Linked DNA regions of Homo sapiens: regions 1, 2, 3, 4, 5 and 6 are each linked to region 7. Evidence: fine-mapped expression QTL. A gene starts in region 7. Each other region holds a variant in brackets. All regions are shown on one strand. Distances are from middle to middle.

Region 1 (4,066 bases), 68 kb after region 7:
CACACCTGTAATCCCAGCACTTTAGGAGGCCAAGGCGGGCGGATCAAAAGGTCAGGAGTTCGAGACCAGCCTGGCCAATATGGTGAAACCCCGTCTCTACTAAAAATACAAAAATTAGCTGGGTGTGGTGGTGGACACCTGTAGTCCTAGCTACTCGGGAGGCTGAGGAAGGAGAATCCCGTGAACCCGGGAAGTGGAAGTTGCAGCGAGCCGAGATTGTGCCACAGCACTGTAGCATGAGCAACAGACCGAGACTCCATGTCAAAAAGAAAAAAAAAGAAATAGCAGTTTACAACAGTGCAAATAGGTAGCCCAGCTAATAATTGTTTAATAATATGAATTAAATTGAAGAATTGATTTATTCTTGTTAATAATTTTTTTGAGCTCTTACTATGCACCATGTTTGTTATGGGTGTTATTATTTATTTATTTATTTATTGAGATAGGATTGCACTCTGTCTTTCAGGCAGGAGTGCGGTGGCATGATCACGGCTTACTACAGCCTCAAACTCCTGGGCTCAAGCGATCTTTCTGTCTCAGCTTCCTGAGTAGCTGGGACCACAGGCTCACACTGCCATCCCTGGCTGACTATTTAATTTTTATGTAGAAATGGGATCTCGCTATGTTGTCCAGGCTGGTCTCAAACTCCTGGGCTCAAGCAATCCTCCTGCCTTGGCCTCCTAAAGTGCTGGGATTACAGGGATGAGCCACCTCTCCCGGCCATGTTCTGGATGTTAATTCATTTAATAATCACAACAATCCTATGCAATAGATACTATGACTATTTTCCCCATTTTACAGATGAAGAAATTGTGACATAGAGAAGTCAGCCCGAGGCTAGCCATTAACATGCAGCACTAACTTGCATTGCTTGCAAATGGAGCCAAATTTTGCTCTTTCCTTGAGGTCTCACTGCCTACTGGAAGCCATCCTTGATCCCCTAGGCTGGGTTAGGTGCCTCCTCTGAACCCCTCAGCTCCCTATGCTTCCCCATCTCTGCCCTGACCCCTCTGCCTATGCCCGAAGTCTTGGATTTGTGAGTCTGGCCTTCATGGGAGAGGTCTGGCCTAGAGATGTGGAAATCATCATTGTAGAGATGGCATTTATTTTGTTAATTACATTTCTTCATTTCTTACCTGTATCAGTTAGCTTTTGCTGGGTTACAGATCACTCCAAAACGTTGTGGCTTAAAACAATTATTCATTTAGTTTGCAATTTTGTGACTGCAGTTTAGGCTGGACTTGGCTGGGTGGTTCTTCTGCTATCCTCTGGGCTTACTCATGTATAATATCTGTAGTCAGCTGGTGGGTCAGCTGAAGGCTGCCTGGTCTAGGGTGGCCTGAGCTGGAAGAGTTATCTATGTTCCATGGGGTCACTCATCTTCTAGGGAGCTAGCCCAGGCTTGTTCTCATGGTGGCTGGGCAGGATTCTGTGTATGTGAGAGAGAGAGAAGGAAAGAGAAGCTGTGAGGTCTCTTGAGGTCTAGGCTTAAACCTGTTACAACATTGCTTCTTCTGTGTTTCATTGACCTAAATATAGTCTTACGGCCAACCCAGATTCATAGGGAGGGGGAAATAAACTCTATTTCTTAATGGGAGTCTGTAAAGTCACTCTGCATGGATACAGAGGGTTCAAGCAGTGTGGCCATTTTTGCGATCCATCCCACCACCATAACCTGGCCCCTTTCTGTGCACAGGTAAACTCCTCCCTGCTGACCTCAGACTGCAGCGAGCGCTGTTCCTGTTCCTCAAGCTCTGGCCTGACATGCCAGGCAGCTGGCTGCCCACCAGGCCGTGTATGTGAGGTCAAGGCTGAAGCCCGGAACTGCTGGGCCACCCGTGGTCTCTGTGTCCTGTCTGTGGGTGCCAACCTCACCACCTTTGATGGGGCCCGTGGTGCCACCACCTCTCCTGGTGTCTATGAGCTCTCTTCCCGCTGCCCAGGACTACAGAATACCATCCCCTGGTACCGTGTAGTTGCCGAAGTCCAGATCTGCCATGGCAAAACGGAGGCTGTGGGCCAGGTCCACATCTTCTTCCAGGATGGGATGGTGACGTTGACTCCAAACAAGGGTGTGTGGGTAAGTTTGTGAGTAGGGGGTAGGGAATGTCTCCCTGGGCTTTTGCTCTTCTGATTACAGTGTCCCCACATTCCTGGCTTCCTTTCTGTCTTGCGATCTGTTTTCTTTATCCAGGTCTCTGCGGTTTAGTCTCTGGATTTGTATTTATCTCAATATTTCAAACTTGGTCCCTCTGTTCTGGCTGAGTTCTAGAGGAGCAAAAACATACTCAAGCAACTTAATAGTTTTGACATTAGTATGAATCGAGACTCTATGGGTTGCAAGTGACTTAAAACCAAATTCAAACTGCCTTAAGCAAAATTGAATTTATTAGTCCATGTAGCTAGAAAATCCCAGGATAGAGCCTCAGGAATGGCTG[G/T]ATCTAGGTGCCCTGGCAATATTATCAGAAATTTGTACTTCCGTCTTTGAGACTTGCTATTTGCCAAATCAGCTTTGTTCTCAAACAGGCTTTCCACTTACAGGTGTAAAGACGACCCCCGCCCAGCTGCCCAGGCCTACACCCCACCAGCTTATCTACCTTAACAGAAAATGGTTCAATAAAAGACCCAGGATTATATCTCACTGAGCCAGTTTGGGTCACATGCCCACCCCTGGAGCCAATCACTGTGACTTTAGGGAGGAAGTTCCGTGATTGGTCAAGGCTGGGGGTGGGGGGTCACATAATGTGTCAGGGTTTCCCATAACCTGGTTCAGTGATTCACTAGGACTCACAGGACTCAGCATATAGTTGTACTTAGGGCTAAGATGTATCATAGGGAAAAGATACGAAGTGAAATTGACACAGGGAAAAGGTGCATCGCACAAAGTCCAGGGGAAATCATGTGCAAGCTTCCGAGAGTCCTTTCTCGGTAGAGTCACACAGGATGTGCTTAATTCCTCCAGCAACAAAGTTGTGATGAAACATGAAATGTCATCTGCCAGGGAAATTCATAGAGTCTCAGTGCCTGGGGTTTTGGTATCCACCTACCAAAATTCCAGACTCCTAGAAGGAAACTCCCAGAAGATGCTCAGCATCTTTGTTCATCACTGGACTATAAGCCGCAGGTAGGCAGGGATCCTGTCCATCTTGGTCACCAGTTTGTTCCCAGTACCCAGATCAGGGCATGGCACCTAGAGGGTACTCAGTAAAAGGCTGGTTTTGTGAATAAACTCAGCCCTGCTCCTTTTGTGCCAGGCCATGTGCTGGGTAACAGAGATGACTCGGACTCAGTCGTTATACTTGGAAAGCTTGCACCCTACTGAGACTTTCCATCCACTAGTCTTCATCTGTCCTTCACTACACCCATCCTCCCTTTTCCCCTCCTTCCTTCCAGCATCTATTCTACCCCCTTCTCTTTTTCCTATTTCCTTCCTTCTAGTCTTTTTCCCTTCCTTCTTTCTTCCATCCACCCACCCATCTGTCCATCCATCCATCCACCCACCAATCCACCCATCCACCCATCCATCCCTCCATCCATCCACCCACCCACCCACCCACCCATCTGTCTTTTCAGATCTATCTACCTATCTCTCCAATCATCTGGCAGAGGAAAACTCAGATACAAAAGCATTTAGAGGGCTGGGCATGGTGGCTCATGCCTGTAATCCCAGCGCTTTGGGAGGCCGAGGCGGGCAGATCACTTGAAGTCAGGAGTTAGAGACCAGCCTGGCCAACACGGCAAAACCCTGTCACTACTAAAAATACAAAAATTAGCCGAGCATGGTGGCACATGCCTGTAGTCCCAGCTAAGGCAGGAGAATCACTTGGACCCGGGAGGCGGAGGTTGCAGTGAACTGAGATCGCGCTATTGCACTCCAGCCTGGGCGACAGAGCAAGACTCTATCTCAAAAAAAAAACTAAAACCAAAACCAAAAAACAAAACAACAACAACAACAACAAAAAACAAACAAACAAAAGAAGGATTTACAAAAAAAAAAAAAAAAAAGACAAGTCTTTTAAGGAAGTTTCTCTAGGGAATCTAACTTTAGAAGGGTTAATTCACCAAC
Region 2 (4,066 bases), 36 kb before region 7:
TATGTATTTCTACCTTTCGATCAGTCAAAATACTCTGAAGAACATTGCACTGCACTGCCCTGCCTTGTTTGCTGCTGCCTAGCACATGGTAGGAAATAGTTGTTAAGTGGACAGATGAATGAATGAGGTGTCCTTAGCACACCTGTGGTAGAGCCCACGATGGCTGTATTCTGATCCACAGCCTCCAGAAATTGTCCGATGACCAGCGGGATGCTTTGGATTCGCTTCACCTCCTCCTGGGCATGGAGAAATTCCTTTTTCAGGTTCTTTTGCTCATCTTTGATGTATTCCTCCTGCACCTCCAGGAACTCCAGCTCTTGCTGCAGCTTCTGCGAGCAGAGAGGGGACAGAAGGGGATGGCTCCAGACTTGCTGATCCAGAGAGTGGTGGAAAGTGGGGAAGAGTATGAGATGTCAGGTCCTGTGCAAGGTCTGGGTTGGGGGTCGAATGTACCTTGTAGCGGCTGTACAGGTCCTCCAGGTCCTCAGGCTCAGGGCCCAGGAAGGACAGGCCGGTCTGGGGCCGGGACACGGACAGTGCTGGGATCTCATCCTAGACGAAAGGGGATAACTCACATTGGAAGAAGACAGTCCTCTCATGAAAGCTTCCCAACTTCACTAATGTTTGTTCCCCTCCCCACTTCACCCTGATGTCACTTAGCCCCTAACAGACCCCTGATATCTTAAGACCCTCTAAATAGATCCTGGAAACCTTTTGGCCACCTAAACAAGCTCTTTATGTCAACTTGCCCCTCAAACAGATCTTATGTTATCATATACCACTCATAACATGTCCCCAGTGTCACACAACCCCCAACTAGGATCTAAACGTCACATCAACTCCTTATCAGACCCAAATGCCACCCAATCCCCTTCAAGAGGTTCCTAATGTCACATGGCTCTCCTAGATAGGCTGTTAAAGTGACTGCGCCTTCAACGAGTCCCAACATTCCCCAGTTTCCCCTCAAAGATCCCTTATGTCACAGTCTCCTAACTCACCTTAGACCTAAATATCACTCAGGCAAGCCACAGATAATACTTAACTACCCGCCCCATTACCCCCATCAGCAAAGCCCTGAACATCAGTCAGCCCCGCAGCCCAGACCCGGGGATCACTCGGCCGCACGGCGGGATCCCATATATCACTCACCGCCTGACCCAATCCCAACGCCGGGCCACCGACCTCACTAAGCACTACCGGCCAGGGTTCGAAATCAATCCGTCTCAAAGACCCACTAACGTCACTCACTCCCCCAGCCCCGCTTTCTGAGCCTTACCTCCTACCATCACTCGGCCACCCAGACAGGCCTTCGAATGGCACAAAGCTCTCCACCGAGGCCTCTAAAATAACCCCAACCTGGGCCGGGGTCCTGGAAGCCATTCCTCCCCCCACTCAGGTCTGGCTTCACCCTCTCCCCGCGAGCCCGGCCCGGACTAAAAAGCCCAAGTCCCCACTGTACCTGAGCCTTCTCCACCAAGATGCCTATCTCCTCCATAGTGACCAAGCCGGCCTCTGTGTGGCCTGGGATGATCTGTCACCGCTTCCGCTGACGACAACGGAAGTCCCTGGCTGAGGAGGCTTCTGGGAAGTGTAGTTTAAGTTACGGCTGAGAGGTGCTGGAAGGGCAGGATAGGACGAAGGGCTGGTCTGGGCTCCGCCCTCAACATAAGCTCATGCGCTGTCCGTACCCGCAGGCGCGAGGGCGGGACGGGAGCTGTGGGCGTGCGCAGTATCACGCGGTGGCGCCATCTCGCCCTGCCGTGGAGGGCTGGGGGTTCTCTCCGGGAGGTGGCGCAGCCCCGTTGCTCTTTCAACGGAGTAAGTTCGCAGAGCTCTGGCACGGACAGTCTGGCGGCCAACTGCTCTTCGCTTTCTAGTGTCTGGGCTGGAGGGTCCTTGAGCTGGGTTCCACAGAAGGGATTGATCGTACGGGCGGGTAAGGTCTCCACGTGGCGCTGATCC[A/C]AAGATTGTGCGCCGCGCGGGCGTGGGAAGATCCGAGCTGCCCCTGAAGGTGACATTTCATACTGGGCTTTACCCCGGGATTGAGGAGCCCCGAGCCCGCAGTGAGCAACCAATCGAGTAGAACCCACGCGTCTGGGCTGGGGAAAAGGAGGCAGCGAGTGCCCAGAAGTTGGGTAGCACAGGAGATCCATAGACCTTAGTTCTGTATCCCAGGTTTCCGCCTTACAGATCTATGCCAGGTCCTGCGCTTAAGCTTTACAGGCATCATCGTCGCAAGTATTATGTTTCCTCATTTATAGAGAAGGAGACAAGCTCAGAGCCACGAAGCCACCAGCCACAGTCAACAATGTGCCGAAGGGACAAAGCATAGATTGGGACCCAGGTCTGTCTGTCCCCAAAGCCTGTACTCTTGGCCCCAGGGAAACACTGCTACCCTTCACACCAGCTACAATTTTTGTTAAGTAAACCTTTTATTGAAGTTAAATAAAGAGAAGAGCACAAATCATTACAGCTCGACAAAATTACACAAAGTGAACATGCCCATACAACCTGAATCCAGATCGCAAAACCAAACAGTAGAAGCCTCATGTGCTCCCCTTTCCCCCATCCCTTCTTCTCCCCCCTCCACTCCCCGCCCCGAGACGGAGTCTCACTCTGTTGCCCAGGCTAATATTTGTATTTTTAGTAGAGACAGGGTTTCACCATGTTGGCCAGGCCGGTCACAAACTCCTGACCTCAAGTGATCTGCCTGCCTTGGCCTCCCAAAGTGCTGGGATTATAGGCGTGAGCCACCACATCCGGCCTCCCGATCCCTTCTAAAGGTTATCATTCATCTGTTTTTTTCTTTTTTTTTTAAGAGCTAGAGTCTCTGTCGCCCAGGCTGGAGTGCAGTGGCACGATCATAGCTCACTAGAGTCTCCAACTGCTGGCCTCAAGCTATCCTCTCTCCTCAGCCTCTGAAAGCACTGGGATTACAGGCATGACCCACCCCATGTAGCCTTTAAAAATATATCTTTTGAAAGAGATTCTTGCTCTGTTGCCCAGGCTGGAGTGCAGTGGTGAGATCACTACTCACTCCAGGTTCAACCTCCCAGACTCAAGCAATCCTATACCTCAGCTTCCCAAGCACCTGGAACTACAGGCGTGTGCCACCACGCCTTGCTAATTTTAAAATGTTTTTTGTAGAGATAGGGTTTCGCTGTGTTGCCCAGGCTGGTCACGAACTCCTGGACTCAGATGATCCTCCCACTTCAGCCTTCCAAAGTGCTGGGATTACAGACATGAGCCACTGTGCCTGGCTGGACTCGCCCTGACTTGTAACAGCTGGGTTACTTTTGTTTGTTTTGAATTCTCCTTCTCTCTAGACCAGTACTCTGTGTACTGTGTTTGGTTTCTTTTAGTTAATGTTGTTTTTGTGAGATTCATGCATACCGTGTGTAGAAATAGTTCTTTCATTTTCATTCTGGATGGTTTCCATTTTATGACTATGCCCTATACCTCAGACTGGATATTTTCCAGTTTAGGGGTGTTATAGTGCTATTGTTACTGGGGGTCCTTGTTCTTAGAGCTCCCAAGATGGTGGTGGGCCGCTTCCAAGATGGCAGTAAGTCTCTTGTTCTCTGACCTGGGGTTCTTGGCCTCACGGATTCCAAGGAATGGAATCTTGGGCCATGCGGTGAGTGTTATAGCTCTATTCAGCTCGATTAGGAGGAACCCCGGGCACTTAGCCCGCGCAAGAACAATGGTGAGCCTCTAGCCCAATTGGGAGCGGCAATGGGTGCCGCCTCGCTGGATCAGAAGTGCAGTGGACACCCGGATCCGGAGGGGTGGAAGTCAGCGGCAGGTCTGCCACAGCTGCCATGGCAGCAGACAGCAGCGGTGGACAGTGAGCGAAAGCTCAGCTCAAGCCATAACAAACACAGACCAGAAGAGTGTACAGTTGCAAGGTTTAATAGAGTGAAAACAGAGCTCCCATAAAATGGGAGGAGACCCAAAGGGGATTGCCTTGCGGGCTCCAGTGCTGGGTTATATCCCGCCGATCATTGTCCCTCTCTCTGTGCTCTCAGGCGTTAGATGATTGGCTATTTCTTTACCTTCTGTTTTT
Region 3 (4,066 bases), 42 kb after region 7:
GAGGGAGGTAGGGAGGAAGGGAAAAGGGTGAGACAGAGACAGAGAGACAGAAAGAGAGAGAGAGAGACAGAGACAGAGAGAGAGAAGACCCAGAGGCATAGCCTTAGGTGAAGACAGAGGGAGAGAGACACAGAGAGAGAGACAGAGACAGGGGAGGGAGATAGAGATGAAGGGAGAAGATCTAGAAAAAGTAAAGTGAGGTTTCGTTCCCCAAGACCTGGGCTAGAACAACTGTCCACAGTGTGTCAGATGACAATCCAACTCTCGGGGGAAGGCCCTGGCCTCTCCCAGCCCCCGGTGGGATGAGAGAGAGGGAGGCAGAGGGCCAGAGCTGGGGCCGTAAAACCTCCAGTGACCCGTTTGCCTTCCCTCCTTCCCCCAGGTGAACGGTGTGCTCACAGCCTTGCCTGTCTCTGTGGCCGACGGGCGGATTTCAGTGACCCAGGGTGCATCGAAGGCACTGCTGGTGGCTGACTTTGGACTGCAAGTCAGCTATGACTGGAACTGGCGGGTAGACGTGACGCTGCCCAGCAGCTATCATGGCGCAGTGTGCGGGCTCTGCGGTAACATGGACCGCAACCCCAACAATGACCAGGTCTTCCCTAATGGCACACTGGCTCCCTCCATACCCATCTGGGGCGGCAGCTGGCGAGCCCCAGGCTGGGACCCACTGTGTTGGGACGAATGTCGGGGGTCCTGCCCAACGTGCCCTGAGGACCGGTTGGAGCAGTACGAGGGCCCTGGCTTCTGCGGACCCCTGGCCCCCGGCACAGGGGGCCCTTTCACCACCTGCCATGCTCATGTGCCACCTGAGAGCTTCTTCAAGGGCTGTGTTCTGGACGTCTGCATGGGTGGTGGGGACCGTGACATTCTTTGCAAGGCTCTGGCTTCCTATGTGGCCGCCTGCCAGGCTGCTGGGGTTGTCATCGAAGACTGGCGGGCACAGGTTGGCTGTGGTGAGTGTTGGGGGAGCAGAGGCGGGGCTGGGGGCGGGGTCCCATCTCTTCGGGGCTGGTTTGGTTTCACTCTGGTCCTTCTGGGTCTCTTTGTTTTCTTTTTTCTCTGTTTGTCTCTCTGTTTCTTGGTGCTCGTCTCTGGGCCTCGCTTTGCTTGTCTCTATCTGTCTGTTTCTCATTCTCTAGCTCCCTCAGTTTCTGCTTGGGTCTCCTGGTGTCTCGCCCTCTCCCATTTCTTTCTCTGTGTCCTCTCTCTGTGTCTTGTTTTCTGTCTCCCCCTTTCTCTGTCTGCTCCCTAGTGTCTCTCTCTGTCTCCTCCCACCCTGTTCTGGGACCCCACCCCTAACACCCTTCTTTCTGTTTCTCTCCTTCCTGCTCCTTCATCTGCCCACAGAGATCACCTGCCCAGAAAACAGCCACTATGAGGTCTGTGGCCCACCCTGCCCGGCCAGCTGTCCGTCCCCTGCACCCCTTACGACGCCAGCCGTATGTGAGGGCCCCTGTGTGGAGGGCTGCCAGTGCGACGCGGGTTTCGTGTTAAGTGCTGACCGCTGTGTTCCCCTCAACAACGGCTGCGGCTGCTGGGCCAATGGCACCTACCACGAGGCGGGCAGTGAGTTTTGGGCTGATGGCACCTGCTCCCAGTGGTGTCGCTGCGGGCCTGGGGGTGGCTCGCTGGTCTGCACACCTGCCAGCTGTGGGCTGGGTGAAGTGTGTGGCCTCCTGCCATCCGGCCAGCACGGCTGCCAGCCCGTCAGCACAGCTGAGTGCCAGGCGTGGGGTGACCCCCATTACGTCACTCTGGATGGGCACCGATTCGATTTCCAAGGCACCTGCGAGTACCTGCTGAGTGCACCCTGCCACGGACCACCCTTGGGGGCTGAGAACTTCACTGTCACTGTAGCCAATGAGCACCGGGGCAGCCAGGCTGTCAGCTACACCCGCAGTGTCACCCTGCAAATCTACAACCACAGCCTGACACTGAGTGCCCGCTGGCCCCGGAAGCTACAGGTGAGGAGGGCTGTGGGCCAGACAGGAGCAAGTGCCAGCTCTGGGGTTGCCTGAGATGGTAAGGGCTTCACCATTCCCCTGGGC[C/A]CCTTTCACAGCTTAGCTGGGGCATGATGGAAGGGTCAGAGTGTACGCCTAGGAGCCTGATGGCTTGGCACAGCAGCTTCTTCCTCTGTGAGCCTAGTGTATTCCTCTGTAAACTGGTCTAGGAAAAGTACCTGTTTTCGAGAAGGATAAGGAGTCAGTGACATGAGCCAGTAGAGGCTCTTTGTTTTTCTTTTCTTTTTTTCTTTCTTGCTTTTCTTTCTTTCTTTCTTTCTTTTCTTAGCCTGACTCTGTTGCCCAGGCTGGAGCGCAGTGACAGGATTAGGGCTCACTGCAGCCTGGAACTCGTGGGCTGAATCGATCCTCCCGCCTTGGCCTCCACCTCCCAAGTATCTGTGACTAAAGGCACACGCCACCACGCTGGCTAATTTTTCATTTTTTTGTAGAGATGGGGGTCTCACTATGTTGCCCAGGCTGATCTGAACTTCTGGCGTCAAGCGATCCTCCCATCTCGGCCTTCCAAAGTCCTGGGATTGCAGGCTTTGCCACCAGGCCCGGCCTATAGATGCTCATTATTATTTTCAGCGGGAGGTGACATGCTCTGGGTCCCACAGCTAGTAGGTAGTGGGGCCAGGATTCAAACCCGTGTTTGCTCCGTTCACCGCTCCCCCACTGCCCACAGGTGGACGGCGTGTTCGTCACTCTGCCCTTCCAGCTGGACTCGCTCCTGCACGCACACCTGAGCGGCGCCGACGTGGTGGTGACCACAACCTCAGGGCTCTCGCTGGCTTTCGATGGGGACAGCTTCGTGCGCCTGCGCGTGCCGGCGGCGTACGCGGGCTCTCTCTGTGGCTTATGCGGGAACTACAACCAGGACCCCGCAGACGACCTGAAGGCGGTGGGCGGGAAGCCCGCCGGATGGCAGGTGGGCGGCGCCCAGGGCTGCGGGGAATGTGTGTCCAAGCCATGCCCGTCGCCGTGCACCCCAGAGCAGCAAGAGTCCTTCGGCGGCCCGGACGCCTGCGGCGTGATCTCCGCCACCGACGGCCCGCTGGCGCCCTGCCACGGCCTTGTGCCGCCCGCGCAGTACTTCCAGGGCTGCTTGCTGGACGCCTGCCAAGTTCAGGGCCATCCTGGAGGCCTCTGTCCTGCAGTGGCCACCTACGTGGCAGCCTGTCAGGCCGCTGGGGCCCAGCTCCGCGAGTGGAGGCGGCCGGACTTCTGTCGTGAGTACTGCTCCATGCATGGTCCACATGGTTGGGTCTCTCCCTGCCCTTCCCAGGACTGTAGGACAGCAGCCCCTTCCTCCTCCATGGGGCTCAGGGGCCACTTTCCTTCCCGAGCTCGGTATCTACTGTCAGGAAACACCTTGGCACTGACACACTGAAATGCCCCAAGTCAGGTACTGCAGTGAGAGAGAGTCAGTTAGAAACACCTAGTCAGAGTGTGGGCGCGGTGGCTCACGCCTGTAATCCCAGCAATTTGGGAGGCCGAGGCGGGCGGATCACCTGAGGTCAGGAGGTCGAGACTAGCCCGGCCAACATGGTGAAACCCCACCTCTACTAAAACTACAAAAATTATCCGGGCGTGGTGGCGGGCACCTGTAATCTCAGCTACTCAGGAGGCTGAGGCAGGAGAATCACTTGAACCCAGGAGGCAGAGGTTGCAGTGAGCCGAGATCGTGCCACTGCCCTTCAGCCTGGGTGACAGAGATTCCATCTCCAAAACAAAAAACAAACAAACAACAAACAACAGAAAAAAAAAAAGAAAGAAAAGAAACCTGGGGTCCAGGACACTCTTAGGGATTGGTGATCCATGCTTTCAGGTATCCAAGGCATGTAGATTGGGATGGCTGACCCTGCCTCTGTCACATAGCAAAGTACCCCTTGTTAGGAAGACCTAGTGAGTTTCAGCTGGTCAGAGGGCCCAGGTCTGTTGCACACACTGAAATACACCTAGTCACATGGAATTAGTCGCATACCTTCAGTGATATCTGCTTAAATTTTATACTGACTGGTCAGATACACTCAGAAAGAAACAGGATCCTGGCATAGCCT
Region 4 (4,066 bases), 49 kb after region 7:
ACAGGATCTCGATATATTGCTTAGGCTGACCTTGAACTCCTGGGCTCAAGTGATCTTCCCGCCTTGGCCTCTCAAAGTGCTGGGATTATAGACATGAGCCACTGTGCCCTGTCCAGGGGTGGATTTACCAGGCTTTGTTGGAGCCTAGTAAATCTTTAACTGAAACCACTGGTCCTCAGCTCATAGGTTTAAGTTCATTTCCCCAAGAATTTAGCCTAACTTTCCACTCGCTGATGCTTTAAAGCAAAAACCTGTGGTTCTGTTTACTCTTCAGAAGAAAAACTTCCACTCATAGCTGCTAATAACAGCAAATGCTCCTGAAGCATGCATGCTATGCCAGCCACGTTTCTCAGCACTTTACAGATACTAATTTATGTGATCCTGACAACAGTTCCATGGGGCAAACGCCTTATTCCCACTTGATAGATGAGGAAACAGAAACAGGGAGAGGTGACTCACTTGCCCAAGGTCACAAAGAGGGTAAGGGGGAAACTGTTTGAACTCGGGCAAGTGGCTCCGGGGGCGATCATTGCTTATTAATGGCTGCAGCAAGCGGTAAACAAAGGATAGCTGGAGGCTTGTTACTTCATCGAGACCTGTATTCGTTTCCCATGGCTGCCATAACAAATTACCACGAGCTTGGTGGCTTAAAACACTAGAAATGTATGTTCCACAGTCCTGGGTGCCAGAAGTTCAACATCAAGGTGTGGGCAGGGCTGCACCCCCTCCAAAGACACTGGTTGGGGGATCTTCCTTTCCCTTTCCAGCTCTGCAGACTCCAGGTTCTCTGGGCTTGTGACAACACCATTCTAATCCCTGCCTTCATCTTCATGTGGCCTTTTCTGTGTGTCTCTTTGCCTTTTTCTTTCTGGCTCTTATAAGGATACTAGTCATTGGATTTAAGGCCCAATTTAATCCAGGATAATCTCATGTTGAGATTATTACCCTGATTACATCTGCAAAGAACTTTATTCCGAGTAAGCTCACGCTATGGGATTCTGTGTGAATATGTCTTTTGGGGACCACCATTCAATCTACTATCAGGCCCTGTTATTATATCCATTTAATAAATAGGAAACTGAGGGCCTAAGAGGTGAGGTCACAAAGATCAGCATCAGGCATGGGCTTGAACTAGGGTCCCACCCTCACTCAAAGTATACTTTCTGAAGCGTGGCCTGCCTCTCTTCCCCTCCCAGGTGAACGGTGTGGACATGAAGCTGCCCGTGGTGCTGGCCAACGGCCAGATCCGTGCCTCCCAGCATGGTTCAGATGTTGTGATTGAGACCGACTTCGGCCTGCGTGTGGCCTACGACCTTGTGTACTATGTGCGGGTCACCGTCCCTGGAAACTACTACCAGCTGATGTGTGGCCTGTGTGGGAACTACAACGGCGACCCCAAGGATGACTTCCAGAAGCCCAATGGCTCGCAGGCAGGCAACGCCAATGAGTTCGGCAACTCCTGGGAGGAGGTGGTGCCCGACTCTCCCTGCCTGCCGCCGCCCACCTGCCCGCCGGGGAGCGCGGGCTGTATCCCCAGCGACAAGTGTCCTCCCGAGCTGGAGAAGAAGTATCAGAAGGAGGAGTTCTGTGGGCTCCTCTCCAGCCCCACAGGGCCACTGTCCTCCTGCCACAAGCTGGTGGATCCCCAGGGTCCCTTGAAAGATTGCATCTTTGATCTCTGCCTGGGTGGTGGGAACCTGAGCATTCTCTGCAGCAACATCCATGCCTACGTGAGTGCTTGCCAGGCGGCTGGAGGCCACGTGGAGCCCTGGAGGAATGAAACTTTCTGTCGTGAGTGAGGGAGAGCCGGAGGGGCAGGGAGGGGAGAGCTTGAGGCACAGAAGGGGTAGACCCTGGGCTTTGCAGCCCCTCCCTCCCCAGGGCTCTGATCGGCACCCCCTCCTTGCAGCCATGGAATGCCCTCAGAACAGTCACTACGAGCTCTGTGCGGACACCTGCTCCCTGGGCTGCTCGGCTCTCAGTGCCCCTCTGCAGTGCCCAGATGGGTGTGCTGAGGGCTGCCAGTGTGACTCCGGCTTCCTCTACAACGGCCAAGCCTGCGTGCCCATCCAGCAATGTGGCTGCTACCACAATGGTGTCTACTATGAGGTAGGAACCTAGTCATCTGGGGCAGAATATGGGGTCTCACCCCTCCCACTGTTCATCAGCCCCACGGCCTGTCTACTTAGCCTCTTATTTATTTCTTTTAGAGTCAGGGTCTCACTCTTGTCACCCAGGCTGGAGTGCAGTGGTACCATCATAGTTCACTGCAGCCCCAAATTCCTTGGCTCAAGCAATCCTTCACCTCACCTCCCAAGT[A/G]CCTGGGACTATAGGTGCGCACCACCAAGCCCAGCGAATTTTTAATTTTCCTGTGGACACATAGAGATGGGGGCGTCTCACTATGTTGCTCAGGCTGGTCGTGAACTCCAGGCCTCAAGCCATCGTCCCGCCTTGGCCACCCAAAGTGCTGGGATTAATGGCATGAGCCACCATGCCCGACCCACTGAGCCTCTTTTTTTTTTTTTTTTAAAGATATAGTCTTGCTCTGTTGCCCAGGCTGGAGTGCAACCTCCGCCTCTCGGGTTCAAGCTCACTGCAACCTCAGCATCCCAGGTTGAAGCAATTCTCTTGTCTCGGCCTCCCGAGTAGCTAGGAGTACAGGCACGTGCCACCACACACGGTTAATTTTTTTGTATTTTGGTAGAGGTGGAGTTTTGCCATATTGGCCAGGCTGCTCTCGAACTCCTGACTTCAAGTGATCCTCCTGCCTTGGCCTCCCAAAGTGCGAGCATTACAGGCGGGAGCCACCACAGCTAGTCCACTCAGTCTCTTCAGTGTCTCTTGTACCCACTCCTTTCCCCGTCCCCATGGCCCTCCCTTGGTCCAGCTGGTCCTCTCCTACCTGGGTCCCTCCCAGCTCCTACCTCTGCTCCCTCTGGTCCACCCTCCACGTGGCAGTGGTAAAGATCTTTCTAAATATGACCACGGGCTCTGAAGCTTTAAACCCTCCCCTGACTCCCCAGGTCAAGTTGTGGCTTTGCCTTCCAGGTCTGGACGAAGGGAGCCTTTCTGACCACAAAGACAAGATTTCCATGTGTTATACCAGCTGCTAACACCCTCTACTTCCCTCTCCCACTCTGTCCCCGTAGGTCCTTTTTCTTTGACTGGAGCATGTGTTTGTCTAATGTCCATCTCCCTTGGGGACTGTGAGCTCTCCTAGGGGTGGAACCCTCTCTCTGTTGTTCTCCTCACATAAATAATATTAATAATAACAGAAAATGTGTAGATAGTGCTTACTATGTATCTGGTACCGTTTTAAGTGCTATGTGTGCATATTTTTATATATGCATTACATATCTAAAAACTTTTTATTCTGAAAACGTTCAAACATGCAAAAATTAAGAGAATAGTGGAATGACTGTCCATGTACTTACCCATCACTTAGCTTCAAAAATAAGCCATATTCTCCCGATCTTGTTTGATGTCTACCCCACGTATCTCTCCTATCTGAATGTTTTAAAGGAAACCCTTTTCTGTTTTTGTTTTTGTTTTTCCTTGAGATGGGGTCTCGCTCTGTCACTCAGGCTGGAGTGCAGTGGCGCAGTTTTGCCTCACTGCAAGCTCCGCCTCCCGAGTTCACACCATTCTCCTGCCTCAGCCTCCCGAGTAGCTGGGACTATAGGCGCCCGCCACCACGCCCGACTAATTTTTTGTATTTTTAGTAGAGACGGGGTTTCACCGTGTTAGCCAGGATGGTCTCAATCTTCTGACCTCGTGATCCACCCGCCTCGGCTTCCCAAAGTGCTGGGATTACAAGCATGTGCCACCGCGCCCGGCCTACCCTTTTCATTTTATCTAAATTTTACATGTCTGAATATAACTTGGTTATTATCTGAATATAACTTGGTTATTATCTGAATATAACTCAGTTATATTTCCAAAGGCAGGCGCTACTATCATCTGCAATCTGCAGATCATGAAACTGAGCCATAAAGAGGTGAAGTAACTGCCCAGAGTCACACACTTTGGAAACAGCAGAAACGGGCTTCAAGCCCAGGCGATCTGC
Region 5 (4,066 bases), 83 kb after region 7:
GGTGTGAGCCACCATGCCCGGCCCTCTCCTCCCTTTTCAAACATGCAGAAAGTTTGAAGAAATATACAGTCAGCACTCCTGGTATGGTCTGAAAGTGTCCCTCAAAATTCATGTGTTGGAAACTTAACCCCCAGTGCAACCGTCTTGGGAGGTGGGGCCTAACAGGAGGTGTTTAAGTCCTGAGGGCTCAGGCCGCATCCTTATGAGTGGATTAACACTGCTGTAATCCTTGGGATTGGATTTGCTCTCTTCTGATCTTCTGCCATGAGGTGACACAGTGTTCGTCCCTGCTTGCCCTTCTGCCTGCCGCCATGTAAGGACACAGCAAGAAGGGCCTCACCCAACACCAGATGCTGGTGCCTTCGTCTTAGGCTTCCCCGTCTCCAGAACTGTGAGAAATAAATTTCTCTTCCTTATAAATCACCCGGTCTCAGGAATTCTATTATGGCAGCACAAAACAAATGGAGACAACCCATCTACCCACCATGTAGAGTCTGTAATTAACATTTTGCTATACTGGTTTTATTATGTATCCATCCGTTGATCCATCCCTTCATGCAGCCTTTGATCCCTCTTTTAAAATACACTTTTCAGGCCAGGTGTGGTGACTCACGCCTGTAATCACAGCACGTTGGGAGGCCGAGGCAGGCGGATCACCTGAGGCCAGGTTTTCGAGACCAGCCTGGCCAACATGGTGAAACACCATCTCTACTAAAAATACAAACGTTAGCTGGGTGTGGTGGCGGGCGCCTGTAATCCCAGCTACTCAGGAGGCTGAGGCAGGAGGATTGCTTGAACCTGGGAGGCAGAGGTTGCAGTGAGCTGAGATCTCAGCATTGCACTCCTGCCTGGGCAACAAAAGCGAAACTTCATCTCAAAAAAAAAAAAAATATATATATATGTATATGTATATTTATACATGTATATATATTTATATATGTGTTCATATATTTGTATATATATATACACACACACACTTCAAAATAAGTCGCAGACATCATTATGCTTCCTTCTAAATACTTCAGCACACGTAGCATTAACTGGAGCTCAAGTTTGTGTACAGTTCCTTTTTGGGGGTAAAATTCACACACAGTGAAATGTACACATCTAAAGAATAAATTTGTTGTTTTGAAATGAACCCAAACCTCTGTCAAAATACAGAACGTTATGGCTGGGAGTGGTGGCTCATGCCTATAATGTGGCACTTTGGGAGGCTGAGGCCAGGAGTTAGAGACCAGCCTGGGCAACATAGTGAGTCTCCATTGCTACAAAAAAATTTTAAAAATTAGGCAGGCGTGGTGGCATGTGCCTGTGGTCCTAGCTACTCGGGAGGCTGAGGTAGGAGAATCACTTGAACCCAGGAGGCAGAGGTTGCAGTGAGCCGAGATCACGCCGCTGCATTCCAGCCTGGGCAACAGAGTAAGACTCCGTCTCAAAAAAAGAAAAAAGAAAAGAAAAGAAAACCGATCTATCAGGTACTATGCCTATTGCCTGGGTGACAAAATAGTCTGTATATCAAACCCGTGACACACAATTTACCTATATAAGGGGTACATGTGCAGATTTACCTATATAACAAACCTGCACACAGCTAGGCACTGCGATGGGTAACAGAGAGTCATCCACAGTCACACATGGGAAGCCAGCATACATGGTAACAGGTGCGGGGCGGCTGATAGGTATTGGGATAGAAGGATGTTGGGGTTCTCTTGTCATTGCTTCTATCTCCTTGGAAGCAAGACGAACAACAAAGAGTAAGAAGGGAGGAGAAAGTTTTAAGGTTTGAAGAAAGAGGAGAAAGTGTAAAATAATTCTTAAAAAAAAATGGGTCTGGGCTGGGTGCAGTGGTGCACGTCTGTAATTCCAGCACTTTGGGAGGCCAAGGCAGACAGATTGCTTAAGCTCAGGGGTTTGAGACCAGCTGGACAACATAGTGAGACACCTGTCTCTAGAAAGAACACAAAAATTAGCCAGGCCTGGTGGCGGGCACCTATAGTCCTAGCTACTCGGGAAGCTGAGGCAG[G/A]AGGATTGCTTGAGCCTTGGATATCAAGGCTGCAGTGAGCTATGATCACGCCGCTGCACTCCAGCCTGGGTGACAGAGCAAGACTCTGTCTCAAAAAAATAAAAAAAAGAAACTAAAAGAAATAAAATAGGCCCAATCACTTTGGAAAAAAGTGTTCCCATTTCTTCAAAAGGTAAACATGCTCAGCATATGACTCAGCCATTTTACTCCTAGGGCTTGTCCCAAGAAAAATTAGAGTAAATCTGCACAAATATTTGTACATGAATGTTCATGGCAGCATTATTCATAATAACCCAAACTGGAAACAACTCAAAAGCCCATCAACAGGTGAACAGACCAGTGAAATTCCAGAGAATGAAATACTCAGCCATAAAAAAGAAATTTGCAACAATGTGGAACATTATGCTAAGTCAAAAAAAAAAAAAAAGGCTACATATTGTATGATTCCATTTGTATGAAATGGGGTGTTGGCAGTTTTCTGAAATTGGATTGTGGTGATGGGTGCCCAACTGTAAATTTACCAGAATTAAACGAACAATAGAATTAAAATGGGTGAATTTTTTTTTTTTTTTGAGACAGAGTCTCACTCTGTCGCCAGGCTGGAGTGCAGTGACATGATCTTGGCTCACTGCAACCTCTGCCTCCCGGGTTCAAACGAGTCTTCTGCCTCAGCCTCTGAGTAGCTGGGACTACAGACATGCACCATCACACCCAGATAATTTTTGTATTTTCAGTAGAGATGGGGTTTCACCATGTTGGCCAGGATGGTCTCAAACTGCTGACCTCGTGATCCGCCTGCTTTGGCCTCCCAAAGTGTTGGGATTACAGGCATGAGCCACCGCGCCAAGCCAAAATGGGTGAATTTTATGGTATGTAAATTATACCTTAATAAAGTTTTAAAAATTAATACATGTGTGTTTGTTTGTGTGGGCTGTCTTAAAATACCATAGACTGAATGGTTCCAATAACAGAGATTTATTTCTTACAGCTCTGGAGGCTGGAAAGTCCAAGATCAAGGTGCTGATTGATGTGATTCTCTGTGAGGGCCCTCTTCCTGGGTTGCATCTCTCCCTCTCTCCCTCTTAAAAAGTCACTAATCCTGGCCGGGCACGGTGGCTCACACCTGTAATCCCAGCACTTTGGGAGGCCAAGGTGGGTGGATCACCTGAGGTCAGGAGTTCGAGACCAGCCTGACCAACATGGAGAAACCCCGTCTCTACTAAAAATACAAAATTAGCCGGGCGTGGTGGCTCATGCCTGTAATGCCAGCTACTCTGGAGGCTGAGGCAGGAGAATCGCTTGAACCTGGGAGGTGGAGGTTGCCGTGAGACGAGATCATGTCATTGCACTCCAGCCTGGGCAATAAGAGCAAAACTCTGTCTCAAAAATAATAATAATAATAATAAAGTCACTAATCCCATAATGAGGGTTTACACTCATGACCTCCTCCAACCCTAATCCCTCCCAATGCTGTCACTTCCAAATACCATAACAATGGGGGTGAGAACTTCAACAAGTGAATGTGTGGGGAGACAATTCAGCCCATGGCCATGTGTTATCTATACCATCAACAGGGTGGGAAAAAATGGAGAATGAATAGACTGGGGGCAAGTGATAGGATTGCTGGTCAGCATTAAGCATTTGGGTTTGTAGTCATGAATCAAAACCGAGACCAGCCAGGGTGATTCTGTATTTTTCTCCATCCACATTCAGCTGCCAGGGGTGCAGGTGCAGAATAAATGGAGGGTTGAATTCAGTTCATAGTTTGGAGGTATGCAAAGGTGTGGTAATAATGATGGTGGGGAATCTGGCTAGGTAGTTGAGAGTGGTGTGGCCATGATTGGGGGAGGGATAGCAACAAGTCAGACAGCTTAATGGATGGTTAGGGCTGAAGGCTCACTGGTGCAATCTTTAGAAGGAGTGAGCTGGAGAGACAGGAGGTGACGGGCAGAGCGTGAGATGCATGGAGCTGAGATTCTGTAGGGGCTGTGGTTATGCGGCTGTTGCCATCTAGAATGGGTCCTTCTCCCCCACCAGGCTGGG
Region 6 (4,066 bases), 250 kb after region 7:
CCTAATGTCCATCAAAAGGATCAAGTTCAATAATTTTGGGTAACCCTGCTACAGGAATATTGTATGATGTTGAAAAACTGAGGCGGCACCATGGATGGATGATTGCTCCAACATGTAGCGTTTGACAACAAATCCACCCCAGTTTCTAAAGTGTAATGTGTAGAGAAACTTAAAACAGCATTGGTTTAAAAAGAAATGAAACCACACATCTGTATGCTTCCATAAGCATACATTAGCTCTGGAATTTGTGTAGAGAAGCTAGTAATACTGCTGTTCTGGGGGTAGGATTGGGGTTCAGTACTGAGAGAAAGACTACATTTTGGACTGATAAAATAACCTTATTCATATGCATGTTTTATCCATTTGGCTGAATGACTATGTAAGTAACAGCATACATGGGAATGAGAACTATGGGTGAAGACAGACAAGATTCTCCACCTTGGGGAAAATGGCAGGTGAGCCCACCTTGACCCTGGGTCAGATCTGGAAGAAGAACTGAGGATGGCAGTGCAAGCAGAGAGTGCTCTGTGAGGAAAAGCCTGGGGCAGGAGTAGTTATGGGAGATCGGCTCCGAGGAACTGGTGGGGTCAGCTCAGGAAGAGCTGCCTCCTGTTCTGGGAGCCCATGGAGGGTGGGTGCTGGGAGCTCCTGGGGGGCTCACCTGGTACTCATCGGCCAGCACGGAGATGCACAGGTTAAATGGTTTACCATCCTGAAAGGGCATATTGTGGCATGTCACCTCATACTGCCAAGCCCCATTCACGCGGCTGTTCATGACCACCCAATGACCAAAGTACACTCGGAAATGGAAGGCGATGTCTGAGTCTTCCTTCATCTCGGTATGGAAATCCACCTGCAGCTGTGGGTCCATGCTGAGGGTAAAGCACACGGTGTGTTGGGCAGGTCTCTCCCTTGTGGGGCACACACTGGACACACACAAATCCCTTCCCCCCTTTCCCCAGAGCAGACACAGGCCTTCCTGGTGATACTGCCAGTCTTGTCCCTGTGGGGCTGCTTCAGCCCCTCCTGCCCTTAAGAGCTCCCTCATCCCAAGATGTAAACTCAGCCACAGTCACTGACCTAGGCCTATGAGTTGTCAATTTCCTGAACATTCTATGCCTCTTGATAAAGAGCCACAGTCCCAATGCCCTGAGTGTCCTCCTCCCCTAGGCCCCATGACTAGCTCACAGTGCGGCCACTGCAGGTTTCATGCCAGGTGTTGCAGGGTCTCCAGGACCTGCACCTGCATGGTGCTGCCATCCTGCCAACTAGACATTTTCACATCACTCACACAGGAGGTCAGCCCTTTAGCAAATGTTCTTTCGTCTCCTCCCCCTGCCATGGACCATGGAGTACTCACACGAAAGGGATGATCGGTGTCCCTGTGATTATCACACAAGAACCAGTAGACAAGGACACAGGCCGTGTGTGTGGTACCTGCCAGGGGATTGAAAGTGGGTGGGAGGGGCAGGACCAGGTGTGGCCTCCCCCCCGTAACAGATTCCTATGGTGCAGGAGGCTAGAGGTCAAAGGGCAAACTGTGAGCCTCCTCCCTCCCACCGTAGCGGTCAGGGCGGCATATTCCTGAAGAAATTAGTGACCCATACATGAGAGCAATGGTTCAGGATCCATGCTGCCTTGGTTCCAGTCCTCATTCTGCCTCTTACTAGCAGTGCAATCTTAGATCCATTACTTGAACGCTCCCTGCCTCAGTTTCCCCAGGACAAGGAGGATAAGCAGAAATTTCTGCTTTGTAGGGTTTTTCCAGTAATATATGAATTAATATATGTGAAAGTTTTGCCCTAATCTCTGCCATGCATGAAGCCTGTTGGGGGTTACCCATTAGAACAGGGAGGTTGCTTCTGGAACACCGACCTGTGATTATTTTCAACACTGAAGCTGTGAAAACAAGATGTGAGGATGTAAGAGTAGAGAGATTCACTCCAGTGAGAAACAACACTTGTTGAAAGAGAGAGAGAAATGCTAAAAGAACTGGAAACCCCCGTGTGCATCACAATCATCAAGGGCCATGGACGTCCTTTCCAGAAGGGGACACCTTGCTGGCAGCACAGCCCCAGTACCTGCACACATGAAGAGTGTGGGCCAGGGAAGTCATTGGAGGTAATCTAAATATTGTTTGATTTTCATTTCTCTGTTTGGTGTTGGGGTTTGGGGTCTTTTTGATACAGGATCTTACTCTGTTGCCCAGCCTGGATTGCAGTGGCATGGTCACAGCTCACTGTGGCCTCAAACTCCTGGACTCAAGTGATCCGCCTGCCAAAACCTCCTGAGTAGTTGTGAATGAAGGTGCACACCAACATGCTTGGATAATCTTTAAATTCTGGGTACAGACAGGGTCTCACTACGTTGCCCAGGCTGGTCTGAAACTCCTCACCTTAAGCGATCCTTCCACCTTGGCCTCCCAAACCACTGGGATCACAGGCATGAGCCACAAACCCTGGCAAGTTATTGATTAATATGCACTGTAAGCTCTGTATGAACTAAGAATAAACTGATTCCTTCTCTATTTTGGG[C/T]GACTCAGTCTCCGAACCCACATCCCCCAAAGGCCTTCCCTAGTGAGCCAGGATCTGCTCACCCTCTTCTCCCACAATGGGATGGACAGGCTGGGAGACAGAGAGACCTGAGGCTGGAGGCAGGAGCAGATGGCCTTTCTGGACAGACCCCACCTGAGGAACCATCGGCCCCATAGTCTGTGTTCCTTTTCCCCACTCTGCTTGGGAGGAGGCACCTGAGGATTCACGCATTCTGCTCAGAGATGACTCCTCCATAACTCATGGCTCACAACAGGCGCACCAGTTCTGCCACCCACACTGTTCACACATGGGACACACACTGACACATGGGAAGTGCCCAGCTGCTTCATCAGAGGCGCTGCTGTGTTGGGAGGAAACTTTACATGCACAGAAGGCCCCTTGCATGCTCCCAGTTCAACACCCAGTCACATCCCAGCACACACTCACCCATAGTCTCACAGAGCCATGCCACTCACTGAGTCTCACACACCTGCTCACTGTGCATATAAAGATGCTCACACACTGGTCCAGCTGTGCTCACACACACACTCACATCACAGTCAAGAAGACAAAACGCAGTTACACCCTTACACTCAGGCACACACCCGCCCACCCTGGTGGGCTGTTCACCTCCCACCTAAAGTCACATCATCTCAGCAGAGGTTACTCTCATCAGACACCACCATGCACTCACAGACGGTTACACTGGTTCAGAGTCCACACCCCACACTCCACCAGCATCTCAGATATCATAGCCGCACGGTTTCTCTTTCACACACCCACAACTCTCAGTAAAGTGTTCACAAGAGAAACTCTCATACTTTCGTCTTGTGAAATCACCCCTGATTCTTTCTTGGTTTATGTGAATTGAGTTTATTAAAGGCTGTGTCTTTTGACTTACTTTTAGTGATGACATTGTTGTCTCCCTCTGTGTAGTTCTTCAGAATAGTATCTGGTCTTCTGTGTGAGTCTCTGATTTGCAGCACTTAAATAGTCCCTCTTGGCCCTGCCCTCTGGCTTTATTTCTTTCTCTGAACCCCTGCCAGGAAGATTTCTCAGCAGCGTGAGTAGGGGTGGCAGAAATAGACTCAGTTTCAGTTTTCAGGCCTGTGACTGTGCTGCAGCAGAAACGACACGGAGGGTCACACCAAGGGGCAGGGAATCGCCAGGGAAGGCACAGATGAGGATGATGGAGTGAGGGTGGGAAGTTGTGCACTTCAGCCTCCATGCTTCTCATGAAGCCATGTCATTGTGTGCCCTGGTCAAAGGGTTTGCCTTGCATCCATCTCTGACCAAGATTGACACTCTGCAAAGTACTGACTGCCTTGTCCACTATTTGAGCCCACAGCTCCTCCTCTATGACATGACTTTTCCCATTCTAAGTCAGAAAGGAGGATGGTAGAAGGGCATGGTCATCTATGAGCACTCTTTAAATCAACAAATTAGCCTTTGCTAAGTCTGGGTCTCAACATTTCCAGAAATGGGATGGTTCATCCCCCATTCCTGAACTGAGGGCAGAGAGCATATGAATT
Region 7 (4,066 bases):
TCTCCTATTTACTCACCTCATTCTCCTGGTTGACTTTATGTCCCAGTCAACTCTTAGCCTTTATCTTTCCCTCCAGGAACGTTTCTTGGGTGGGCGTGGGGATTGGTTGGAGCTCCAGGGAGAGAGAAGCCCCCCACCCGCTCTGGCCTCCCAGAGGCCCAGGCTGCTGTGATAAGAGAGGAGGAGCCCCAGGGGCAGCAGCTGCTAGGGTGTTGGTCCAAGAGAGCACCCAGGCTTTGCAGCTGCTGGTCCCAGGGGAGACTCCCCCAGCAAACAATGAGATCCTGAGTCAGGGAGAAGGCAGGCAGGGCATGGGTCAGGCCAGCCCCTCAGAGGAGCTGACTCCAGCTGAGAAAGCCCAACTTTCAGCTCATTCTTCTGCTCCTTGTGTGCAACCTAGACCTCCACCTCCCATCTCAGGCAAATTCTGGGGTGATGGAGAGGCACAGAGTCCCCTAAACCTGTTCAGCTAGCCCCTGCTAAGAGCAAACCCTCCCTACACACAAAAAAACTCCAAAACCAACAGGTCCTGGCTCTTCCTCAGTCCTCACAGGCTGGGGAGTCCCTGGCCACCTATATCCTGTTTCCAGCACCACTGAGGAGCAGGTGTCTGGGATCAGAAGTAGAATCTGGGTGTCTGTGTGGAACCAGGAAACAGAGGCCATTGTCCCTTCTTCACACACCGCCTCAGTCCCAGTGCCCACCTGCAGCCTGGCCTGCGCCCACACCAGAGGAGGCTGCCCCCCAGCTCTACAGTCCTTGAGAATTTTTTTACATCTCTGGGACGTAAAGATGCCCAGAGAGGCTGGTTTTGGTGTTCCCATTTTGCAGATGAGAAACCGCAGACGCCCCACTGGGCTGCGGTGGAGGTCTTGTGTCCCACTCCATAGCCTCAGACTCCTGCCCATCCCAGACACCTGCCCCTAGTGGTGTCTGGAAGCAGGATGTGGGTGGCTAGGGACTCCCCAGCCTGTGGGGACTGAGAAGGAACCAGGACCCGGATATGGGTCCCTCACTGTTGTTCCTGGCAGGAGCCAAAGGAAGGAACCTAGCCACTAAGCCAGCAAATATGACCACATGCCACCTCCCACCCTCACTGCCCACACCCCCACCCTACCCCACCTCCACCCAGGGACCCAGGTGCTCATCTGCCTGCTCCCCAGCTGTCTCCCTCAGGGACCCCACCCTTCCAGGACCAAACTCTCCAGAAGGCTTCCAGGGAATGGCCACCAGCTGTCCTCACTCCCTTCTTGGAACCCAGGCATCCAGAATCACTGTCCCTCCTTCCCAGGCCTTCACAGTTTCCCATTTCATCTGGCCATGAGGATGGCAGCCTCCTCCAGGAAGTTGGCATCATCTGCCTGGCACGTGGCCCAGGGTGTGGCCCAGAAACTCCACTATATAGCCCTGCCACAGGGCTGGCCCTGCAGCTCCAGGGACCTGCAGGTGAGAAGGGCTGGGGTCCCCTTTGGAAGTGGGACAGCAGGTCCCCTACTCTTGCCCCTGACTGTAGGCCTCCTCATCCTACCCCTAGACCCACAAGACAGCCAACTCTCCACCCCGTCCCTGGCTTCTGCCCTCCCCAACCCACCTCCAGACCCGCTGGACAGCCAGCCTCCCCTATACACACACACTGGTCCTTGGATCCATACCCCCTGGCCCAATCTGCCCGACTTCTTTCCCCACCTCAGCCTTCATGGTCCCAGGTGGCCCTTGTCATGAGAGTGGGCCCTTCTGCCCAGGACAGTCTCCAGCAGAGGCGGTGGATCAGCCTTCTATGATCCTTTCTCTTTTCCTACTGCAGCCATGGGTGCCCTATGGAGCTGGTGGATACTCTGGGCTGGAGCAACCCTCCTGTGGGGTAAGTCAGACCAAGACCCTCTCCATGTCCTTGTTCCAATCTGGGGAACTCTGCGTGGGTCCACGCCTTCCATGTGTGCCTCCTCCACATGTCACCCCAGGCTAGCTGAGACAGGAGAGAGGCCCTTAGGCTCTGCAGGGGGATGTGGTAGAATTCACCAATTCTCACCCTTTTCTGGATGGGAGCACAGGCAAAAACCTTAGTCCCCAAACTCAAGTGTGCAAGAACTTTCTTGGTTTTCTGCAACTCAACTAAGGTTTTGACTCTGAGCCTCATTCTGCTAAGTTGATGGAAAATTTCACGAAAGTCATTCTTGGAGGGTGTTGTCCCCACTTCTCCCAGGGATGTGTCCAGAACTAAAATTTTGGATAAAGCCAAAGTACTGGGGGGAGGATGGGATATGAGGACCCTCTCGTCACCAGTCAGCATCCATCTAGGTTACTTTTGAAATGTCCATTGTTCCTGATCCCCTGGCCCCCTGGGATATCCTTCAAAGCCCCCTTTATATGGAAGGTGGTCATTCCATAGCCCCCACACTCTCTTCAAGATTCCTTAGACCTCTCTCTCCTCAGCCCCAGGGACGCTCTTCCTAGTTGGGGGTGGTCAGAAGCCCCCACTGCCATCTATTTCTAGGAGACAATTCATTCACCCTTCCATAATCCCCTTCTTCTCTTTATCCCCTTTTCACAAACCCCCAAGTCCCATTATTATTATTATTATTATTATTATTATTATTATTATTTGAGATGGAGTTTCACTCTTGTTGCCTAGACTGGAGTGCAATGGTGTGATCTCAGCTAATTGCAACCTCCACCTCCTGGGTTCAAGCGATTCTCCTGCCTCAGCCTCCCTAGTAGCTGGGATTACAGGCGCCCCATGCCACCATGTCCGGCTAATTTTGCATTTTTAGTAGAGATGGAATTTCACCACGTTGGTCAGTCTGCTCATGAACTCCCGACCTCAAGTGATCCACCCGCGTTGGCTTCCCAAAGTGCTGGGATTACAGGCAAGAGCCACCGCGCCTGGCCCCCACAAGTCCTATTAAGACAAAAACCAGCTGGGTACAGTTGGTCACGTCTGTAATCCCAGCACTTCGGGAGGCTGATGCAGGAGGATCACTTGAGCCCAGGAGTTCAAGACCAGCTTGGGCAACAAAGTGAGACCCTGCCTCTAGAAAAAAATTAAAAAATGAGCCAGGCACACAGTGCGTGCCTGTGGTCCCAGCTATACCAGAAGCTGAGACAGGAGGATCCCTTGAGCCCAGGAGGTTGAGGCTGCAGTGTGTTGTGTTTAAGCCACTGCACTCCAGTTTGTAAAAAGATGGAAATCATACACTGGCAGCAGAGTACATCCACCTTGAGCCCCAAAGTGCTTAAAACAATTGTGGGTTGGAGATTTCACATGAAAATTCAGATAGCCACATTCTCTTTAAAAACAGAAAGAACGGCCAGGCGTGGTGGCTTACGCCTGTAATCCCAGCACTTTGGGAGACCGAGGCAGGTGGATCACCTGAGGTCAGGAATTTGAGACCAGCCTGGCCAACAGGGTGAAACCCCATCTCTACTAAAAATACAGAAATTAGCTGGGCGTGGAAACCGGGAGGCAGAGGTTGCAGTGACCCAGGATCGCGCCACTGCACTCCAGCCTGGGTAACAGAGTGAGACTCCATTTCAAAAGAAAAAAAAGAAAAAATACAAAAGTTAACTGTGCCTGGTGGCGCACACCTGTAGTCCCAGTACTCGGGAGGCTGAGGTGGTAGAATCACTCGAACCTGAGAGGCAGAGGTTGTGGTGAGCCGAGATCGTGCCACTGCACTCCAGCCTGGGTGACAGAGCGAGACTCCATCTCAGAAGAAAAAAAAAAAGAAAAACAGGAAGGTCTTACAATTTAAAAAAGCTCACATTCTTTCATTATAACAGGTGAAAGCTAGTACCAACAATCCACTTTTTTTTTTTTTACTAGTTTATATATTTTTAAAATTTTTAATTTTTATGGGTTTGCATTTATGGGGTACCTGTGATATTTTGATACAGGCATACAGTGTGTAATGATAAAATCAGGGTAACTAGGGCATCCCTCACTTCAAGCATTTGTCATTTCTTTGTGTTAGGAACATTCCAATTCCACTCTCAGTTATTTTAAAATATACCATAAATTATCGTCAACAATAGTCATCCTGTTCTGCTACCAAATACTAGATTTTAT

Evidence for each region. PIP is the estimated chance that this variant, and not a neighbour inherited with it, causes the effect.
Region 1: its variant is fine-mapped to the expression of FCGBP in whole blood (TOPMed, PIP above 0.99).
Region 2: its variant is fine-mapped to the expression of FCGBP in fibroblasts (GTEx, PIP above 0.99).
Region 3: its variant is fine-mapped to the expression of FCGBP in whole blood (INTERVAL, PIP above 0.99).
Region 4: its variant is fine-mapped to the expression of FCGBP in whole blood (INTERVAL, PIP above 0.99).
Region 5: its variant is fine-mapped to the expression of FCGBP in whole blood (TOPMed, PIP above 0.99).
Region 6: its variant is fine-mapped to the expression of FCGBP in whole blood (INTERVAL, PIP above 0.99).

What each region holds. Positions count from the first base shown.
Region 1 is chr19:39,864,751-39,868,816 of GRCh38, reverse strand. FCGBP (Fc gamma binding protein) reads left to right here. Exons shown (of 36, transcript NM_003890.3): 34 at 1,697-2,080. Among named protein-coding and RNA genes, the nearest start is that of FBL, 20 kb to the right of the region's middle. RefSeq lists an enhancer at 1,189-2,388. The variant G/T (reference allele first, on the strand shown) is at 2,439.
Region 2 is chr19:39,968,632-39,972,697 of GRCh38, reverse strand. It overlaps PSMC4 (proteasome 26S subunit, ATPase 4), which reads right to left and starts at 1,533. Exons shown (of 11, transcript NM_006503.4): 1 at 1,460-1,533; 2 at 454-552; 3 at 143-329. The coding sequence starts at 1,495. It overlaps LOC124904720 (a long non-coding RNA gene), which reads left to right and starts at 1,727. Exons shown (of 3, transcript XR_007067260.1): 1 at 1,727-1,818; 2 at 2,262-2,344. RefSeq lists enhancers at 570-1,249, 1,274-1,663, 2,164-2,213. The variant A/C (reference allele first, on the strand shown) is at 1,963.
Region 3 is chr19:39,890,812-39,894,877 of GRCh38, reverse strand. FCGBP (Fc gamma binding protein) reads left to right here. Exons shown (of 36, transcript NM_003890.3): 20 at 383-956; 21 at 1,351-1,967; 22 at 2,692-3,235. Among named protein-coding and RNA genes, the nearest start is that of FCGBP, 42 kb to the left of the region's middle. The variant C/A (reference allele first, on the strand shown) is at 2,052.
Region 4 is chr19:39,883,716-39,887,781 of GRCh38, reverse strand. FCGBP (Fc gamma binding protein) reads left to right here. Exons shown (of 36, transcript NM_003890.3): 24 at 1,197-1,791; 25 at 1,910-2,109. Among named protein-coding and RNA genes, the nearest start is that of FBL, 39 kb to the right of the region's middle. RefSeq lists an enhancer at 1,564-2,065. The variant A/G (reference allele first, on the strand shown) is at 2,320.
Region 5 is chr19:39,849,258-39,853,323 of GRCh38, reverse strand. No RefSeq gene overlaps it. Among named protein-coding and RNA genes, the nearest start is that of FBL, 4.9 kb to the right of the region's middle. The variant G/A (reference allele first, on the strand shown) is at 2,024.
Region 6 is chr19:39,678,804-39,682,869 of GRCh38, reverse strand. It overlaps the pseudogene LGALS17A. Among named protein-coding and RNA genes, the nearest start is that of LGALS14, 24 kb to the left of the region's middle. The variant C/T (reference allele first, on the strand shown) is at 2,535.
Region 7 is chr19:39,932,359-39,936,424 of GRCh38, reverse strand. FCGBP (Fc gamma binding protein) reads left to right here and starts at 1,791. Exons shown (of 36, transcript NM_003890.3): 1 at 1,791-1,861. The coding sequence starts at 1,807.